3 separate regions of the Homo sapiens genome follow, and regions 1 and 2 are each reported to be linked to region 3. Evidence: microRNA targets listed by miRTarBase, many of them from high-throughput screens and not tested one by one. Region 3 holds a microRNA gene; each other region holds the end of a gene's coding sequence.
Evidence for each region. The annotated mature microRNA hsa-miR-3655 reads GCUUGUCGCUGCGGUGUUGCU and lies in region 3 at 1,651-1,671, opposite strand. An mRNA with a match to its seed (bases 2 to 7 or 8) in the 3' UTR can be bound and repressed. Matches are read on the target gene's strand: a 7mer-m8 pairs with bases 2 to 8, a 7mer-A1 pairs with bases 2 to 7 and ends in A, and an 8mer does both.

Region 1 (3,256 bases), not on the chromosome of region 3:
TACATGTCTAAACCACACAGCATGGTACACTCACCTTTCCAGATTTATCTTGCCTTTCTCGTTCTCTGTATTAGCAGTTTTCAGAATGTGCATTTGAACAGATTTTGGTCTTTGCTTTTTCTGCTTCCTTGGCCTGAAATGCCTTCCCTCCCCACCAGTTAGCTCTAGTAGTTTAATTTCTACTGTTGGTCACTGGTCCTTGAGGACTGTTTAGACCTCCCTTCCTCCAAGCTGGACGGCCTTCTCAGTCCCCTTCATCTGTCCCCAAATTGAGTCACTGTCCCTCTTGTGGCTCACCAATTGTAACTTACCACATTCTGTCATTTGCTTGTGTTCCCTCCAGACTGTAAGCTCCTGCAAGGAGGCGTTTTGTTATTGTATCCTCAGAGAGTCAGAGTGCCAGTACACAGAAGAGCACCACTAAAGGCTACAGGGAGCTGATGATTAATTTTACATAGAGCAGACATTTAACCAAGAATATAGCACTTACTCCCTGTCAGATTCTCGATATTTTAAAATATTAGCTCATTTAATCCTAACAATCTTTTAATCTCCATCTTATAGATCATAAAACTGAAAGATTAAGTAACTTGCCCAAGGTCACAGCTGTTAAGGGCTGAGCTAGTATTCCAGTTCAGACACAGATTATTCTTACTTATGTTGACTGATTTCAAATTCCTGCTTTTCCTCCTTCCATGATGTCTAGGACACTCAAATCACCCTCACAAATGTGTTCTGCTCTCCTAGAAACTGGAGGTGGGTCAAGCCAAGCTTAGAAGCAAAATACAAAACAGGATGGGCATGGTGGCTCACACCTGTAATTCCAGCACTTTGCAGGGCTAAGGAGGATCACTTGAGCCCAGGAGTTCAAGACCAGACTGGGCAAAATAGCAAGACCCCATCTCTAAAAAAAAAATTTTTTTTTAAATTAGCCAGGTATAGTGGCGTGCACACACACACACACACATACACACAGCCTCCAGAGGCACGTGGTTCGTTGCTAACATTCCCAAAAGGTATCTTGTACTGGTTCACACTACACCTCCATCTGATTCCTCAGTTGTGAGCTGTTTCTTTCTCCTAGTCTCAGCCACCAACCCCTTCAGAAGTGGCTCCTGAAAACTTTGAGGGGAGTTAGAAAATGACTTTGAAGCTCTGGTCAGTTCACTGAACCTTTTTATTCATTACCACGAATATAGCTGTAAATATTTAAAGAATCCATTCTAAATACATGCATTCATTTGTTTTTAAAAGAGGAGCTTGTTAAGAATGGGTTTTATATTGTTTATAATTTTATGTATTTTGGAATTTATATATTACTTTTGTAATTAAAAAAAACCCAAAAAACTAAGTTATCAATTTTAAACAAATAGGGAAAAGCCTGAAATTTTGGCATGGCCAACTCAGAGTGTGGAGTCAACGCAGGCATCTAATCTTAATTGTGATCTAAATGTGAGTATCGTACTTTTCTCAGTGTTTAGAAAAGATGTTTTAAATAATTTAGAGTAAGTATATGCTTGCAATTTTGTATCCAGAATTCCAAGCAAATGCTTCCTGTGGCATTTTTTTTTTTTTTTTGGAACAGAGTCTTACTCTGTTGCCCAGGCTGGAGTACAGTGGCGCGATCTCAGCTCACTGCAACCTCTGCCTCCCAGGTTTAACCGATTCTCCTGCCTCAGCCTCCTGAGTAGCTGGGATTACAAGTGTGCACCATTTTTGTATTTTGTTTTGTTTTTAGTAGAAACAGGGTTTCACCATGTTGGCCAGGCTAGTCTCAAATTCCTGACCTCCAGTGATCCACCTTGAGTCTCAGTCTCCCAAAGTGTTAGGACTGCAGGCATGAGCCACCGTGCCTGGTCTTGTTGACTGTTCTTTAAGGCTGTAATAAGGCACAGAACTGGGCTGAGGCTGTGGCTGCAGCCCTTTCCCTCTACGTTGTCCCCATAGAGGCTAGACATTTTAAGGTCAGTGGAGCACTACCAAATCAAAAGAGCCTCTTAAATTGTCTTCTACTAAAAAATTTTAATAGTAGCATATTAATATTTTTAAATGTTTTAGTATCATCTCATTTCAAAAACTATATCTATTGTTCTTATATATAAGAAAAACAATGATTTTATTTTAAGTTGTTTATTTTAAGATAATTTACAAATATCTTGCTGTCTTCAGTAATTCAAATAATGGAGGAACAGTTTCTTCGGACAAAGGCAGCAGTAAGCTAAAAACAAAATCAACTGGCTGAATTTTCCTTCTTTACCTGAAAAACAAAGTACAGAACAAGTAAGAAATCAAACAGCATTTTTTGGGAAAATAATGTCAAGAGATAATAATACATATTTAAGTGGGGTACAGAGAACTGAATTTACACAATAAAGTGTTACCCTATACCAGTGATTCTAAAATTTTGGTCTGGGGAACCTTTCATGGGGTTCATGAGGTCAAAACTATTTTCATGATAATGTTATTTTGCCTGTTATATTCTCATTCTCGAGTATACAGTAGAGTTTTCCAGAGGCCACATGATCCATGACATCACAACAAAATGAATAGAGACAGATGAAAATCTAGCTGGCTTCTGCTACATGAATCAGACATTAAGGGGTCCAGAGACCATAAAGTGTGACAACCACCACTCTTCACAACCTATATATAATATCTCAAAATAATGTTAATTCTCTATCCTCAAAGTTTATTTCCTTATATCTACATTTTCTATGATCAACACACTCACTACAAAAAAGTCCACTAGCGTTGCCCAGGTGCTCCCGTGAGTTGGCTGCTACTGTGAAGTGGCCCATCCATCTAAATCTCTCAGAGGACAATTCTAGGATTACTAAATTAGCTTAACTTATATCTGAATAGGTTTCTTTTCTGAACAGACATGGGAAGAATGTGTGAACTTTACCTCTTGTCTGAGGATGGAACTTGATTTTCATTAATCCCTGGTTATTATATTAGAAGAAAAAGACAAACACAAAACAAGCAGGTCAAGAAGCAATCCATGCTAGTTAATCACATATGCTTTCCAATGAAAAAAAGTCAATTGTTAAACTTGATACCTTGAGTACATCATGCAAAAATACTTACCACAAGATTCCTTTGAAACAGACTCAATGACTGTTATAAAAAGTCATAGATTTCAATCCAGGTTAGAAGCAATAAAAACATGCTCATGCAAGTAGGCAAGACTATGAATATGTAATTTAAATTACAATTTTTCTATAAATTAACACAATATATTTAGAGGTTTTTTTTT
Region 2 (3,256 bases), not on the chromosome of region 3:
TATAAAAATAATAAGACTCCCAATAACACAAAGCTTTTATAATAGTAATTATGGAACATGGACATTTTAATGAATTTCATATTGCAATGAAGACAGTCAACACTTAGAGACAATTATATCGATACAATAAAAACTGATTCCATGGAACACTTATAAATGCATACATTTTCCTCCAAAGAAATATGTTTTTCACAGACTTAAGTAACAAATGATTTACATAGGATTCTTCAGATTCCAAAATATGTACAGAGTTTTTGTCTCTACAGAAACTGATGAGCAGTGGTTGAAAAAGAGTTGCTTTGCCCAACAGCATGGCTCTTATGAAATTCTGTATCATATACAGTTTTCAGTAACCACACATTTTCCGTCTATCATTAAATGAAATTCTGGACACATCAGCATACAGGACAAAACTGTTCCCACTTCCAAACACTGTTTCAGACGAGATCACGTGTGGTTGACAGTATGACTTAATTTAGCCACACACACGTGCACACACACACACACACACACACACACACCATCCCCGATCTTGTCTGTGACTCCTGATCACCACGCTGCAGCAGCAGTGGATGAGCTCACATTAGAAGACGACACAGCAGCGAACAGCAAGGTGCCCCGGCTCCTGAGAGCTCTGCCTGAGCACCACAGGGCTGCGCCCCCAAGGACATGCAGGAGTCCAGTTTCTGAGGTCCCTCCAGTTTGCCAGACAAGGTGAGCAGCTGTGGCAGTAAAGGGCACCAGTGTGCCTGGAACTCAGTGGCCACTAGGAATATTGACTTTTAAAAGCTTCAAAAATGTTTAATCTGGCAGAGATCTGGTTCTTAAGTTTGATTTGGCTATTTGCAGCCATTTTTCAATGTTCCTAACCATCATCCTAAGACACCCAGACTTTCAAATTAAACTCCGAGGAACCCAAGCAGGTGGCCTGTGCAGTGGCCCCAGAAGCTGCCCTGGGCTCAGACCTTTGTATGTGCAGTGTGGGAGGCTCTGGCAATTGGACCTCCAGCCAAGAGAAAAAGTGAGGCCCCAGCAACATCTGGACACAGCACAGCCCTGCATCAGGCAAGTTCGCTCAGGACAGCAGGAGCTGAAACCTGAGATTCTAATCAACCAGAGGGACCAGGTGGACTCCATTCTCAGAACAGTGCAGTCAGGAAATAATGTCGGACAAAAACACAACACATTTTTTATTTGTAAAATCAAAATGACTGAAATATTTGCTGTTTGTCCCTTAGCCACGTCAGATCCATCTGAGGTGGTTATGGGTTTTTCTTGGGCCCGGGGCTGTCAGTCATTTCAGGGTCATTCTAGATGACTTAGATTCGAAGCTCCTTGGACCAGCTCCTGAAGACCCAAGTAGGGAGGTGCCTCTCATCCCTGGCGAGCTGCACCAAAGGACGGGTCCAAAAGTCCCACGTCCTACTGCACCTGCACCTACCGGTCCCCAGATGGGTTCCCTCCTACCTCACCGTAAAACAGGGCAAAACACAAAGACCTGGGGATGTCACATGACAGCTGTAAATATTACCTTCCTGTGTCTCTCCAAGTGGTGAGCCTCCAGGTGGACGTATTGAAAGGACTGAATATACAAGACACAGGAAATGAGAGCCTCTTTATCAAAACTGTAACTCAGCAAGAAACATTAACGTACAGATACCAGGTGAGCAGTAATTTCCAAGAAGGCAAGAACACCAGGCTCACTCAGCAGTGGCGGGACTGGCACTGAGAGGCGTCCCCACCACAAGACCTGGAAGTGTCTCGTCACCGGGGCCTGCTGGCTGCAGCCGTCAGCTTGTGCGCCTAAGTGGAGAGCCTACACCTTCAGGACACGTCGGTGTGACTGTCTTTCCTGCCTTCTGAACTGAACTCAGTATTCCAGCTATAAACCAAAGTGCTCCAGCCAGGCAACAGTGAGACCCAAAGTTTCCCAAAGACCCGTCTCTGAGGTAGTGTTGTTGGCTCTCAAACACCACCACGGGAGTGAGCCCATTCGGAAGCACACAACCGAGGTGCGGAGAATTAACTGGGCTCTGTGTGCAGGCGGCCTCTTATCAAGGTCAAGTGACATTCAGTGGACAAGTCATTTGAAACATCTAAAACCTGTTTATAACCATAGCTATAAATTAAAGTGCTTTACATTTTGCTTAATATTTGAAATCAGTGATTAGAATCCTATTTCAAAATTTGCTAGCATGAGACCTCGGGAGACTGAAATGATTTTCTATAAAAAAGCAGAAAACTTTTCTTTCCTAAAGAAACTCCAAATGGTGCAAATCCAACATCCCATGCTTTTTTTTAACTTCTAAACTCCAGGTTACCTTTGCAGAACTGTAACAGAAATTAGAGTAGAAGCTGACTACACGACAGCACGTGCTGAACTTCACGCGAGGTAAACACAAAATCCTGGAGCAATCCTGCTGGTCGCCAGCCAACACAGGCAGCCCCACAGTCTTCCCAGCAAAGGCAGATACGTACAGTTACTCCAGGGAACGCAGGACTGCCGACGCCGCAACGTAATACAGAAGTTCACATTTAATTCACACAAATGTAATGCCCTACTGTTCACCTGTCCAATGTCAACAACTCACAAGCATTTCATGTGCTACATGGGAGGTGAGCTTTGCCTCTACTGCCCAGAGGACCCAATATACATACATATACAAGACAAAAGTAAAAAATACGACCACACATTTCTCTGTACATTTCATGCAAGCTGGGCACTATGTGAAAAGAACATATACAAAGCACCCTTTCCAGGGTCAAACTCTCACAAAAATGGCTGATTAATACGCAGAAAAGCCTGCACCCATCAAAGGTCTGTGCTGGCAAACAGTGAAACTAAGGGCTGCCGGTGTCCTTATTTTTCTTGTAGCAATGCAGGGATGTTGATGTTCCAACCAATGGCTTGCCGGTCAAACCCACAGGTGAACAGATTGCACACGGGGTGGTCTTCACTCCATGCCGAGCAGCATACCATTCTCCTGTGGCCCTAGTGATGATCAAACAAACCAAAATCAGTGCATTATTCCCGAAAGTAAGATTATAAGACCTCAGCGAAATGAATAACCACATCACTCAAAGTACGTAAGTTATAGGAAAACAACATGGTGTGCAGGATCAGTCCCATGGACCACCGAGCACGGACCACCAAGCATGGACCACAGATCATGGACCACCGTGCATGGGCCACAGATCATGGACCACCGTGCATGGGCCACAGATCATGGACTGCCGAGCACCAACCACCGCCGAG
Region 3 (3,256 bases):
GGCTGGGCACGGTGGCTCACGCCTGTAATGCCAGCACTTTAGGAGGCTGAGGCGGGTGGATCACTTCAGGCCAGGAGTTCAAGACCAGCCTGACGAACACAGTGAAACCCTGTCTCTACTAAAAATACAAAAAAAAAAATCAGTCGTGCATGGTGGCACATGCCTGTAGTCCCAGCTACTTGGGAGGCTGAGGCAGGAGAACCGCTTGAACTCAGGAGGCAGAGGTTGCAGTGAGCCAAGATTGCATCACTGCACTCCAGCCTGGGTAACAGTGAGACTCCGTCTCAAAAAAAAAAAAAAAGAAAGAAAAGAAAAGAAAAGAAAAAAAAAAAGAAATGGACTGGAATTGGGGATGTTATCAAAGATGATTTTATCGGGGGCCAGGCACGGTGGCTCACGCCTGTACTCCCACCACTTTGGGAGGCAGAGGCGGGTGGATCACCTGAAGTCGGGATTTCAAGACCAGCCTGATCAACATGGAGAAACCCCATCTCTACTAAAAATACAAAATTAGCCGGGCGTAGTGGAACATGCCTGTAATCCCAGCTACTCGGAAGGCTGAGGCAGGAGAATTGCTTGAACCCGGGAGGCGGAGGTTGTGGTGAGCCGAGATCGCACCACTGCATTCCAGCCTGAGCAACAAGAGCGAAACTCAGTCTCAAAAAAAATAAAAAGATGATTTTACCCTTATTTCCTATGTTTTAATTTGCTATTGGAAGAAGTAATTCCTATATAATGTGTAATTACACAACACGTATAAAAAAAAAAAAAAACTTAACACCTTTCCTGCAGGAATTTCCCTTCTAATACCCTTATGCACTTGGCCTGATCCAGTTAAGGCTCACAGAGATAAAGGGCCAGCGGGTATAATTTTTTACCATCCTTGATGACAAGACATTCAGAATTCTTTCACCATCACCACCACTTTTCTATTCATTGCCCAACTCATTTCCATGGTCCTAGCACAAAATACTCACTGGTGGAAGGAGTGAGGATCATCCACATCGTGGCCATCGGGGGCCAAAGGGTTGGAGAACGGCTCACCTGACAAAAAAAATTGACGTTAATTTAATCAGTCTCTTACGTGTCAGATCCTATGCAAAAATTTGAGATATAGTAGTGAACAATACAGAACAAAAGTTAGAACAGCGACAGTGTCAACACAATGTAATAAGTGCTGAAATAGGAAACTACAAGAAGCTGTGGGAGCACAAAGCAGAGGACCCTAATCCTGCGCTGGAGGATCAGAGAAGACTTCCGGAAGATCACGTCTAAAATACTACGTAAAAGATAAATACGCGCAACCCAGGATTAAGTATGGGGACAGGACTGGGGGAAAGCGATCCACGCACAAAAGCCGCCCATCATCACTTGGAGTAGGAGTGAGGACTGGGGACGGAGTTTGGAGCTGTCGGCCTCACTTAGGACCCTGTGGCTTCTCCGGGCTCAAGCGTCACACATACATACATACACACACACACACACACACACACACACACACACACACCCGGCTTAAGCTCAGAAGCTACAATAATGCGCCAAGTGCCCCAAGTGCCATGGGGAAGAAATAACGGATGGCCTGAGCCTTACTATCTCGCTCCGGCATTTTGTTATCGTTCTTTCGCTGTCACCAACAATCGAGTCTCCAACAGCAACACCGCAGCGACAAGCTCTTTCCCACAGTGCACCTCAGAATCAACCCACACTGCTTTGCGTTCGCAGCCTTTCCGCTTCCTGTTTTTCCCTCCGACCAACCCCGAGCGCAAAGAAATTGACCTCGCAGCGGTCCTACAATACTTTTATATCATTGGCCAAGCTTTACCCCGCCCCTGCCTCATGCAGCCTATGGGCTAGGCTTTAGGGTCCGCGGTTGGTCAGACCGGAGCACTTGGCCTGAAGACCTGGAATTGGCGACTTCGATATTAACAAGGATGGCGGCGGCCGCAGCAAGTCGAGGAGTCGGGGCAAAGCTGGGCCTGCGTGAGATTCGCATCCACTTATGTCAGCGCTCGCCCGGCAGCCAGGGCGTCAGGTGAGGCGCGGCGTGGTGAGGCGGGCGGGCTTCGGGACGCCAGGGTCACGACCTCGACCTCCCTGAAGTTGAGGGAAGCCCCCGCCCACAGCACGCGCGGCGCTCTCTCCGGCCCCGCAGGGACTTCATTGAGAAACGCTACGTGGAGCTGAAGAAGGCGAATCCCGACCTACCCATCCTAATCCGCGAATGCTCCGATGTGCAGCCCAAGCTCTGGGCCCGCTACGGTGAGTGCGGGACGCCAGGGGTCTGGGGCTCCGGTAGGGGAACAAGGGTTTGAGAAGAGAAGGGACCGCCCAAGGTCGTGCAGAAACCCGTGGAGAAACTAGAACTCGGACTTTAGCCTTGCTGTTGATCTTGTTTCCATGAAGAAATTTATATTCGCAGGGTTATATGATGCGTTGTATTCCGGGCAACATAAGTATGCAGGCTGACCGAATCCTGCGTAGGGACCAGGAGCTGACGTTTTTGTAGTTAAGAATGGGCTTCAGACAGGAGAGAAGTTAGTCAATATAGTTTCTCCAAATAACGTGTAGCCAGTGTCAGTCCAGGTAGTGTGTGAGAATCTCAGTAATTTTGCACATAGAGCTGGGCCCTGTGCTGAGTGCTTCCCTGCCTAACTCATTTAATCTTCATTAGTTAGGAGGAAGCGTGTTCTTCTTTTCTCACTGTAGAGATTAGAAAACGGAATCAAAACTTTGTTTTGCACTATTGTTAAACTCTAGCTGCAACTTTAGATGCAGCTAGAGTTTAACAGGATTGAGCCTTTACATTTATTCCCCTTCCTAGAATGCACTTACCCCTCTAAGACTGGCATGGCAATGTATTGCAAAATGAAATTTTCCTATCATGTTGCCTAACACATTGTAGGTATGCAATAAATGTTTATACATACTGAATAACAGGATTTTAATCACAGCTTTTAACTATATGGTGCCCTGGGAATGACGGGAGGAGGTGGAGGAGAGTGACCACCTTAAGCAGATTGGTTCTCAGAGTAGATATCTGTGAGACACAGTAGACATTAGACATGCACTAATAATTGGAGAAGGAAAAAAGCTTCTCCTTCCAAAAGCCAGTAGACTACAGGAGGAGATAGACACGAGTAACTTTAGTGTATTGTGCTGGGTATTATGTTAGATAGCCTATGGGAGCCTAGAGAATGGGTACCCAGCTGGGTGCGGTGGTTCACGCCTGTAATCCCAGCACTTTGGGAGGCTGAAG

Region 1: the mRNA of ATP5F1C is a reported target of hsa-miR-3655. Seed matches in the 3' UTR shown: 7mer-A1 at 2,907-2,913.
Region 2: miRTarBase lists WDR37 as a target of hsa-miR-3655. Seed matches in the 3' UTR shown: 7mer-A1 at 531-537.

Annotation. Positions count from the first base shown.
Region 1 is chr10:7,806,660-7,809,915 of GRCh38, reverse strand. It overlaps ATP5F1C (ATP synthase F1 subunit gamma), which reads right to left. Exons shown (of 10, transcript NM_001001973.3): 9 at 2,906-2,942; 10 at 2,115-2,257. The coding sequence ends at 2,936. LOC105376392 (a long non-coding RNA gene) reads left to right here. Exons shown (of 3, transcript XR_001747356.1): 2 at 1,374-1,452. Among named protein-coding and RNA genes, the nearest start is that of TAF3, 10 kb to the left of the region's middle.
Region 2 is chr10:1,128,949-1,132,204 of GRCh38, reverse strand. It overlaps WDR37 (WD repeat domain 37), which reads right to left. Exons shown (of 14, transcript NM_014023.4): 14 at 1-2,992. The coding sequence ends at 2,861. Among named protein-coding and RNA genes, the nearest start is that of LINC00200, 29 kb to the left of the region's middle.
Region 3 is chr5:140,646,259-140,649,514 of GRCh38, reverse strand. It overlaps MIR3655 (microRNA 3655), which reads right to left and starts at 1,671; the gene lies at 1,589-1,671. It overlaps NDUFA2 (NADH:ubiquinone oxidoreductase subunit A2), which reads left to right and starts at 1,885. Exons shown (of 3, transcript NM_002488.5): 1 at 1,885-2,032; 2 at 2,153-2,259. The coding sequence starts at 1,932. It overlaps IK (IK cytokine), which reads right to left and starts at 1,686. Exons shown (of 20, transcript NM_006083.4): 1 at 1,591-1,686; 2 at 978-1,044. The coding sequence starts at 1,606. It also overlaps a transcript of TMCO6 not described here. RefSeq lists enhancers at 1,612-2,147, 1,888-2,307.